2 linked regions of the Homo sapiens genome follow. The protein of the gene in region 1 interacts with the protein of each later gene in a pairwise test. Each region holds a gene or a part of one and is shown in the gene's direction. Other genes may lie near its edges.

Region 1 (5,232 bases):
TGCCCTTAAAAGACAACAAAAACTATTTCTTATTTAGCCTTTCAGAAATTCAGAAATTTTAAGAATTTTACTACTTTAAAGTAAATCCAGTGACTTTTTTCCCTACATATAAAAACAATTCCTTCAAAAGAAATTCTGGTGGAATTCAATATTATTTGTCCTTAAAGTTTTAGGAACTCTGCATTGAAGAGGTTTATGTCTCAGTTTCATGTCAGTTCCCTCAGGTGTTTTGTAAACAGAACATCTAAAGAATGACATGGTGTAATTTTATTAGATGCTTTCAGAGAAGAAGAGCTATATATTTTTCCCGTTTATGTTTTTATCACTCATTTATTTCTTGTATGAATTTATTTCATCAAAGTAACTACATGTACGTAAGGTCTAGTAGTACTTAGATGTCTTGCTAGCCCTTTCCATCTGTCATTGCATTTTTCAGATGTGAGGATGGAGATGATTTATTTGCATTTTAAATATGAAGAAACAGGTTATGGGAACATTTTATAACTGCCCCAAATTTCCCAGGTAGCTGACTCATTGGACACTGAAGCTTCCAACTATTAGGAATATCTGGCATTCTATTTTCATGTAAAGGCAGACAGAACAAAAGAGTTTTCCATTCACAGAGATGAGCACATATGATAGAAGTACCTGATGTTACCTTTTTATTCTTTTGAGACAGAGTTTAATTCTTGTCACCCAGGCCGGAGTGCAATGGCATGTTCTTAGCTCACTGCAACCTCTGCCTCCCAGGTTCAAGCGATTCTCCTGCCTCAGCCTCCCAAGTAGCTGGGATTACAGGCATGTACCAGCACGCCTGGCTAATTTTGTATTTTTATTAGAGACGGGGTTTCACCACGTTGGCCAGGCTGGTCTTCAACTCCTGACCTCAGATGATCCACCCACTTCGGCCTCCCAAAGTGCTGGGATTATAGGCGTGAACCAGTGCACCTGGCCCTGATATTACCTTTTGGAGGATAGACCCCAACAATGCCCCTCATCCAGTTTCCATCTCAATTACTGTCTCTTCTCTAGTTTTGTCTCTTAGTCATTCCATGAACGTAGATGCTCAAGCACAGTTTTTATGTAAGTGTTTTAAATTTCCCTACAGCAAAAGCTATCAGGTATGATGGTAAGAGACAGCAGCAAACCGGTGGCATATACTTAAACATTAGGTAAAGGTCTAATAGCTTAAATTCCTGTTAAGATTAGTAATATAGAGAAAATTCCAACTGGAATATGAGCAAAAGAAATGAATAGGAGTGTCATAAAGAAAAGAAATTTATGAAAAAAACTTCACTAATAATTTAAATGTGTGAAAATGTTAATAAAATAGCTTTCTATTTATATATTGGTTTTACTTATATTGTCAATGACTTTTTTAGAAAAAGGAACTGAGTCCTATTTAGCCGGGGTCTAGAGATTCAGGAATGCTTGTACTGTTGCATGAAGAGTGAACTGGGAAAATCTTTGGAGAGGAAAATCTGCCATTACGCTTTCAAAACTTTTTTTTTTGGATGTTGATTTTCTTTTATTTATTTATTTATTTATTTATTTATTATTATTATACTTTAAGTTTTAGGGTACATGTGCACAATGTGCAGGTTTGTTACATATGTATACATGTGCCATGTTGGTGTGCTGCACCCATTAACTCGTCATTTAGCATTAGGTATATCTCCTAATGCTATCCCTCCCCACTCCCCCCACCCCACAACAGTCCCTGGAGTGTGATGTTCCCCTTCCTGTGTCCATGTGTTCTCATTGTTCAATTCCCACCTATGAGTGAGAACATGCAGCGTTTGGTTTTTTGTCCTTGCGATAGTTTGCTGAGAATGATGGTTTCCAGTTTCATCCATGTCCCTACAAAGGACATGAACTCATCCTTTTTTATGGCTGCATAGTATTCCATGGTGTATATGTGCCACATTTTCTTAATCCATCTATCGTTGTTGGACATTTGGGTTGGTTCCAAGTCTTTGCTATTGTGAATAGTGCCAGAATTAACATATGTGTGCATGTGTCTTTATAGCAGCATGATTTATAATCCTTTGGGTATATACCCAGTAATGGGATGGCTGGGTCAAATGGTATTTCTAGTTCTAGATCCCTGAGGAATTGCCACACTGACTTCCACAATGGTTGAACTAGTTTACAGTCCCACCAACAGTGTAAAAGTGTTGCTATTTCTCCACATCCTCTCCAGCACCTGTTGTTTCCTTTTTTTTTTTAACTTTAAAAAAATGTTAATAGAAAAAAAATGCCCAGATAAAGATACCGATCACAGTATCCACATCTATACAATGATTGATCCAGCTGTGGCCCTCCCCTCTCACCCAGCCCCATGTGGCTTCCTTTGAAACTGCAGACTGGAGATGACAGTGGTGAATTCTAGTCCTACTCACTGGATATCAGCATTTCTTTTTTTTAAAATTTTATTATTATTAAACTAAGTTTTAGGGTACATGTGCACAATGTGCAGGTTAGTTACATATGTATACATGTGCCATGCTGGTGTGCTGCACCCATTAACTCGTCATTTAGCATTAGGTATATCTGCTAATGCTATCCCTCCCGCCTCCCCCAACCCCACAACAGTCCCCAGAGTGTGATGTTCCCCTTCCTGTGTCCATGTGTTCTCATTGTTCAGTTCCCACCTATGAGTGAGAACATGTGGTGTTTGGTTTTTCGTCCTTGCGATAGTACTGAGAATGATGATTTCCAATTTCATCCATGTCCCTACAAAGGACATGAACTCATCCTTTTTTATGGCTGCATAGTATTCCATGGTGTATATGTGCCACATTTTCTTAATCCAGTCTATCATTGTTGGACATTTGGGTTGGTTCCAAGTCTTTGCTATTGTGAATAGTGCTGCAATAAACATACGTGTGCATGTGTCTTTATAGCAGCATGATTTATAATCCGTTGGGTATACACCCAGTAGCCATAAAAAATGATGAGTTCATGTCCTTTGTAGGGACATGAACATACATGTGCATGTGTCTTCATAGCAGCATGATTTATAGTCCTTTGGGTATATACCCAGTAATGGGATGGCTGGGTCAAATGGTATTTCTAGTTCTAGATCCCTGAGGAATCGCCACACTGACTTCCACAATGGTTGAACTAGTTTACAGTCGCACCAGCAGTGTAAAAGTGTTCCTGTTTCTCCACATCCTCTCCAGCACCTGTTGTTTCCTGACTTTTTAATGGTTGCCATTCTAACTGGTGTGAGATGGTATCTCATTGTGGTTTTGATTTGCATTTCCCTGATGGCCAGTGATGGTGAGCATTTTTTCATGTGGTTTTTGGCTGCATAAATGTTTTCTTTTGAGAAGTGTCTGTTCATGTCCTTCGCCCACTTTTTGATGGGGTTGTTTGCTTTTTTCTTGTAAATTTGTTTGAGTTCATTGTAGATTCTGGATATTAGCCCTTTGTCAGATGAGTAGGTTGCAAAAATTTTCTCCCATTTTGTAGGTTGCCTGTCCACTCTGATGGTAGTTTCTTTTGCTGTGCAGAAGCTCTTTAGTTTAATTAGATCCCATTTGTCAATTTTGGCTTTTGTTGCCATTGCTTTTAGTGTTTTAGACATGAAGTCCTTGCCCATGCCTATGTCCTGAATGGTAATGCCTAGGTTTTCTTCTAGGGTTTTTATGGTTTTAGGTCTAATGTTTAAGTCTTTAATCCATCTTGAATTAATTTTTGTATAAAGTGTAAGGAAGGGATCCAGTTTCAGCTTTCTACATATGGCTAACCAGTTTTCCCAGCATCATTTATTAAATAGGGAATCCTTTCCCCATTGCTTGTTTTTCTCAGGTTTGTCAAAGATCAGATAGTTGTAGATCTGTGGCGTTATTTCTGAGGGCTCTGTTCTGTTCCATTGATCTATATCTCTGTTTTGGTACCAGTACCATGCTGTTTTGGTTACTGTAGCCTTGTAGTATAGTTTGAAGTCAGGTAGCATGATGCCTCCAGCTTTGTTCTTTTGGCCTAGGATTGACTTGGCGATGTGGGCTCTTTTTTGGTTCCATATGAACTTTACAGTAGTTTTTTCCTATTCTGTGAAGAAAGTCATTGGTAGCTTGATGGGGATGGCATTGAATCTATAAATTACCTTGGGCAGTATGGACATTTTCACGATATTGATTCTTCCTACCCATGAGCATGGAATGTTCTTCCATTTGTTTGTATCCTCTTTTATTTCATCGAGCAGTGGTTTGTAGTTCTCCTTGAAGAGGTCCTTCACATCCCTTGTAAGTTGGATTCCTAGGTATTTTATTCTCTTTGAAGCAATTGTGAATGGGAGTTCACTCATGATTTGGCTCTCTGTTTGTCTGTTATTGGTGTATAAGAATGCTTGTGATTTTTGTACATTGACTTTGTATCCTGAGACTTTGCTGAAGTTGCTTATCAGCTTAAGGAGATTTTGGGCTGAGACAATGGGGTTTTCTAGATATACAATCATGTCATCTGCAAACAGGGACAATTTGACTTCCTCTTTTCCTAATTGAATACCCTTTATTTCCTTCTCCTGCCTGATTGCCCTGGCCAGAACTTCCAACACTATGTTGAATAGGAGTGGTGAGAGAGGGCACCCCTGTCTTGTGCCAGTTTTCAAAGGGAATGCTTCCAGTTTTTGCCCATTCAGTATGATATTGGCTGTGGGTTTGTCATAGATAGCTCTTATTATTTTGAGATATGTCCCATCAATACCTAATTTATTGAGAGTTTTTAGCATGAAGGGTTGTTGAATTTTGTCAAAGGCCTTTTCTGCATCTATTGAGATAATCATGTGGTTTTTGTCTTTGGGTTTCTTTATATGCTGTATTACATTTATTGATTTGCGTATGTTGAACCAGCCTTGCATCCCAGGGATGAAGCCCACTTGATCATGGTGGATAAGCTTTTTGATGTGCTGCTGGATTTGGTTTGCCAGTATTTTATTGAGGATTTTTACATCAATGTTCATCAAGGATATTGGTCTAAAATTCTCTTTTTTGGTTGTGTCTCTGCCTGGCTTTGGTATCAGGATGATGCTAGCCTCATAAAATGAGTTAGGGAGGATTCCCTCTTTTTCTATTGATTGGAATAGTTTCAGAAGGAATGGTACCAGCTCCTCCTTGTACCTCTGGTAGAATTCTGCTGTGAATCCATCTGGTCCTGGACTCTTTTTGGTTGGTAAGCTATTGATTATTGCCACAATTTCAGAGCCTGTTATTGGTCTATTCAGAG
Region 2 (5,232 bases), on another chromosome or scaffold:
GTTTTTTTATTGTTTGCAGTATGTTTTAGGTATTGTAGAGATTTAACAATGGGTCTCTCTACCTCAGCAATTTGGAAAAATACTCGAGTGGAAATTGTTAATCCCTATGAAGTAAAACGAAAGGTGAAGGTAATGTGGTGAAGATAGTATTTCTGCCTTCTTTCTCTAAAACAGTTATGATTGGTTAGATTTAACCCTGCAAGTTACTTAATAAAAAATATTATAGGTGAAAACTAAATGCTACATTTGAACAGACCCACTTAGTACTTAGAAGAGTTTGTTTGTTTTTAATTATATTCTTTTGATAAGAAGTAAACAAGTTTACTTTTGATAATTTATATTTTAATTACAAATTTGTTGATGTTGGCTTTAAAAATGCTAATTTTGAGTACAAGCTCTACAACCCTCAATTGTGATAATTTTAGGACTAAGAGTGTTTTTGTTGTAGAATATATATTTTTAAAATGTGCTAGAATCCTTAAAGAAAATGTAGGTAAGAATCTGTTAACTTTAATGTCAAAAGAAATAATTTCCGTCCATTTCTGTGTGTGTTGAATCTGGTAAGATTAAAGATTATAGACACTACCATATATTTTGGAGTCTTTTTGTATCTTTTACCTGTCTTGCTTGCATGGACAGTTGTTAACCTTTGAATTATCATTCAGAAGTGTGTAAATTGGTTGTTTGAGACTCTTAACATGTTTTCCCACAGGAAAAACTTATTAAGGGTACTTATATTTTTAGATCAGTACATAATAGCGAGGTATAATGATGCCGAGCCTAACCACTGTTTGTAAAATTGTTCTGTGGTGAAATGTGTCAGGTTTCAACCAATAACTAGCTTGGTTCCAGTGAGAGGTAGAGAATGGGCCTGAAAAGGGGAAACCTGGAATCTTTTGGTTTCTGGGAAGAGAGTTCTTAGAAGAGGGGAAATAGGGTAAGCAAGAAACTGATTGTGAGAGCTCTTGCAGGGACTGTCTCAATGAGGTCTACTGGGAATAGGAACTTCAAAGGGCATCACCCCTCACGCAGTCACAATTTAAGCTTTTGACTGGATTCTGTCAGGATCAAGAAAGAGGTTTTACTTGAGATGGGATGGGTATTGGTCATTCCTGGGCAAGGATCATAAAGAACAACCTGTTTGACTAATGTGAACTTTTCATGATTTAATGCCATGCATGTTACAGTTTGTTCGCTTAGTTGTTTGTTTTTTGGTGAGGAACCAAGTGCTTCTTTATCAAGTTGATGATGTAATTTTCACATTTCATATCATAGTAAACGTGTAGTACTTTTATATTATTTCTTTAGCAATGCTGTTTTTATTTAAGCAAGTTAGTTTTTTTTTTTTTTTTTTTTTTTTGAGTCAGGGTCTTTCTATGTCATTGTACATTGTCCAGGCTGGCCTCGAACTCCTGGACTCAAACAATCCTCATGCCTCAGGTTCCCGAGTAGCTGGGACTACAGGTGCTCACAACCATGCCTGTCTAAACAAATTAGTTTTGAGAGTATGTAGTTTACTGATAAAACCAATTTGGGAAAAACTTCTAGTTTTAATTAATTTTCATGAGACCCTATAGTAATAGAGGAAAGAACAGCTTTGAAGGCAGGTAAATCTGGGTTCTTGTCCGAGCTCCATGCCATACTCATGATGTGACACAATCCACGTTACCTAACCTCTCTGAACCTCACTTTCTTTGTCTATAAGTTGGAGAAAAAACATCTTCAAGAGTTGTTATGTAAAGAAAATTCAGTGCTGGGTTTAATAAACTTAGCAAGATGTTTTGCACTTAGTCTCTAGTACACAATAGTTCCTTCTCTTTTCCCACAGTCATCATGCCTCTTCCCATGCCCCTAAAGTCTGAACTATTGTCATCTATGTTAAAATCCTGGGATTCAGATAACCATGGCCTTAGCCGCAGCCTTCCATTTCGTAAGCAGTTTTTCTTAAGACCCCTTCCTAAATTTGATCATTTCATCTAAGTATAGTGGTGCTCTCACTGTGAATGTTTGTAATCACAGATAGGGTGATCCAGAGATAAAATACAAAGTTATATTTAGAAACAGTGGAAGGATAAGAAGAGACAGATAATTTCATTTATTATATCTGGCTGATGAGGTGTTTCATTGAAATTTTTAATTTTTTAAAAAAATTCTGAACTCTTGTCATGGTAGGAATTGGTTCAATTCATGAAGCATTTATTGAGTACAAGGCAGTGCTGTACATAGTGCTGTAATGTGAAATGCCTAAAAATATACCACAGAGTCCCACCCTACCCCCACAGGTTTACATTCAGGTAGTAAGACAGGCATGTATGGAAATTGTTATTGTAAAAGGCACAAGATTATCAACAATGGGGTGGTGGTGGTGGTGGTGGGGGTGGTGGTGGTTTAGGAATGGATCTGGTAAGGCTTTGTGAAGGAGGTGGAATTTGAGCAGGGCATTAGAAAGTGATAATATTTTCACAGACAGATGAAAGGAGCATATTTCACGTGGATGGGCACAATATAAGAAAAGGCATGGAAATGTTCTGAAAGAAGGAAGAATCTGATACTGTTGTAAGTCTGTGATGTGGGAGAGGGGATATAGTGAGAGATAAGGAATGTATTAAAGGTAAGCTAGGCCCAGGTTGAATGGGACTTTTTAAGCCAGTTTAAGGGTTCAATTTTATCTCATAAATAGGAGCCACTGAAGGTTTTTGAGGACATGAGTGACATTATTAGATTTGTGCTTTGAAAAATAATTGACGGTAGTGAGGAATGGGGGAGATATGGAAGGTGGGGAATTCCAGCTAGGAGGCTATTGTGTTAGTGGAAGTAGTAGTGAGATTTTTGAACTAGTACAGAAGGGGTAGAAAAGAGATGACTGATGGGAGAGACCTGGCAGAGGTAGAATAGTTACAATTTGGTAACTGATTAGATGTTGGAGAGTAAAAAGAAATAACAAACAATTGAGATTAGAAGCGTCCTGGTAGGAATTAATTCAATGTAACAGGTATTTAATGCATACCTGCCAATATAAGTCTCTGTATTAGCCACCAGACTAATATAAAAATAAATAGATCTTTGCAGTATAGGGAGATAGAAAGCTAAAATGAAATCTCCCCTTTCTAATATTGTATTGAATAATAGCATTCCACTCTGAAGGTTTCTGATCGTGCTTAGAATGCTTAAATTCTTTACTACCAAAGGTGAATACACTTATTACTAGCTAAAACATTTTTAATTCTTTTTAAATGGGCCTTAGGCCTGTAATTCTTGTTTCACCAATGTTCATCTTCAGTAGTCAGCAGCCGTGAGTACAGAGTCCTATTCTGAAAATAATGACCAGTACTTATTTCTGGAATGTGGAAGGAGAGCAGGGACATCTGTATTTTTTCTATGCTTTCACCAGGTTTATTTGGAATAGACAAGCGGGGAGGAGTCAGAGGGCAGTGGCCCCTCCCTGCCACAGGTGCCTTCTCAGTTCCTCCAAGTCAATCTTTCTTTAAGCCAGTCTGATCTGGAAATATTCAGGTCAGTTCCTTCAGGGCAGGTCCTCTATATTTCCCTACCTTGATTAGTTCATCAAGAGAGCTAATCATTACCTCTGTGTTCCATGATAAGGCCTACTGATAGTGTAGTTGCTTTTCTGGGCCATATTGTTTTAGTACCTACCCTCTCATAGTCTCTCTCATCTAGAATTTTGATGAGGAAATGCAAGATTTTTTTCCCTTCCTGTAATTTCTTTCTTGGTGCTATCATTGTATGTAGCAGCGGTTCTTAAGATTTGATAAGCACTTGGAATCTTGAGGTATAAGCCTTTCAGTACTTTGTCAGAATTTGCTATGTAATGTTTATTCATTTATGTTATTTCCAAGGATTATTTACTGTTGCTGCCAATATTTTTTTTTGTTGTGTATTTTCTTTATTTTTGTTTGTTTTTAGGTAGGAAAGGAGTTAGATGGGAGAGAGATTTAGAGAGCTGAGCTAAATCTGGCTTTTGCAGATAAGAGACGTTTTCTAAATTGCCCTGGAGACATTCTGTAACTGATTTCACTGCTAGATTTTAATCTGTATCTCTACATTAGAAACAGGTCCTGCTGTAGTTTTGTGTGCACGTGTGTGTGTGTGTGTGTGTGTGTGTGTGAGAGAGAGAGAGAGAGAGAGAGAGAGACAGAGAAAGAGGGAAGGTGGAGTAGAGTGCATGTGTGTTACTTGTGATTTGCTTCATTTTACCAAGCATTTGAGATGGTATATGGGAAATATAATCTGATAACTATTTTGATATTGAGGATAAGGGAAAACAAAGTAGGAGATATATGAAAAGGGTGGAGGGTAGGGGATGAAGGGTAAAATAGAGCACAAATAAGCAGGCTGTAAGGGTCTATGACATGTTTAAAATATAGTTGAATTATAAATTTGGCCTTGAGTTTTCTTAGCTGGTTTTTCTCAACTCTGGCTGTGTGTTATATTTACCTGGGAGTGTAAAAAAATTATCCATGCCAGTGTTCCACTCAGAGATTCACATTTAACTAATCTAGAGGGGGCCTGGGCATCTATTCCCCAGATGCTTATGATGCACAGCCAGGGTTAAAAACCACAGCTCTAGGCCAAAGTAAAAAAAGAAATAGTCACGTAGTTGTCATTATTCAATAGGAAAAAAAGAATATTAATTTGTAAGCTAGCAATTAGCTCTGCAGTAAATTATCTGTGAATTGTGATATTTTTCTGTGTGTTTTATTTTGTTGTTGTTTTAAGATATGACTGGAGCCAAATTGGGTTGTTTGAACTGCCCTGTATGTTCTTGCTCTTTAGTTTTGAGGAATTTGCTTTTCCAGTAGCATTAAAAACAAAATTTAGTACCGTAGCTAGTTTTGATATAGTTCAGCCATATAACTAAGAGGTTAAATAACTTGTTCACCCATTTTACTAGCTGAGTAAGGAGATAGTGACTCTGTTTTGAATGACAAATATCCCATTACATCTCTAACAAAAAATTTCAAAACCCATGGGTAATTATTACTAAGAAATCCCTCTGCCTCTCCTGTAAAGTGATTGAAGACAAACTTTAAGAGGAAATATAGCAATTTAAACACCCAATACAAATTTTTTAACCTGAAAAAACGTTGGAATCCATTCCATTTAAAGGTATCGAATCTTAAGGGAGAAAGAGATAATAGCGTTTATTGAGCATGAACTATGTACCAGCTAGTACTAGATGCATCATAGATTATCTCAGTTTTATTCATTCTT

Evidence for each region.
Region 2: the proteins of ZNF227 (region 1) and RPS6KA6 interact in a two-hybrid assay, tested with the Homo sapiens proteins (one large-scale study listed by BioGRID and IntAct).

Annotation. Positions count from the first base shown.
Region 1 is NC_000019.10:44,218,233-44,223,464, forward strand, and holds part of ZNF227 (zinc finger protein 227), read left to right. Parts: intron 1-5,232. UniProt on the Homo sapiens protein: May be involved in transcriptional regulation.
Region 2 is NC_000023.11:84,180,958-84,186,189, reverse strand, and holds part of RPS6KA6 (ribosomal protein S6 kinase alpha-6), read left to right. Parts: coding exon of another isoform or gene 1-129; intron 130-5,232. UniProt on the Homo sapiens protein: Constitutively active serine/threonine-protein kinase that exhibits growth-factor-independent kinase activity and that may participate in p53/TP53-dependent cell growth arrest signaling and play an inhibitory role during embryogenesis.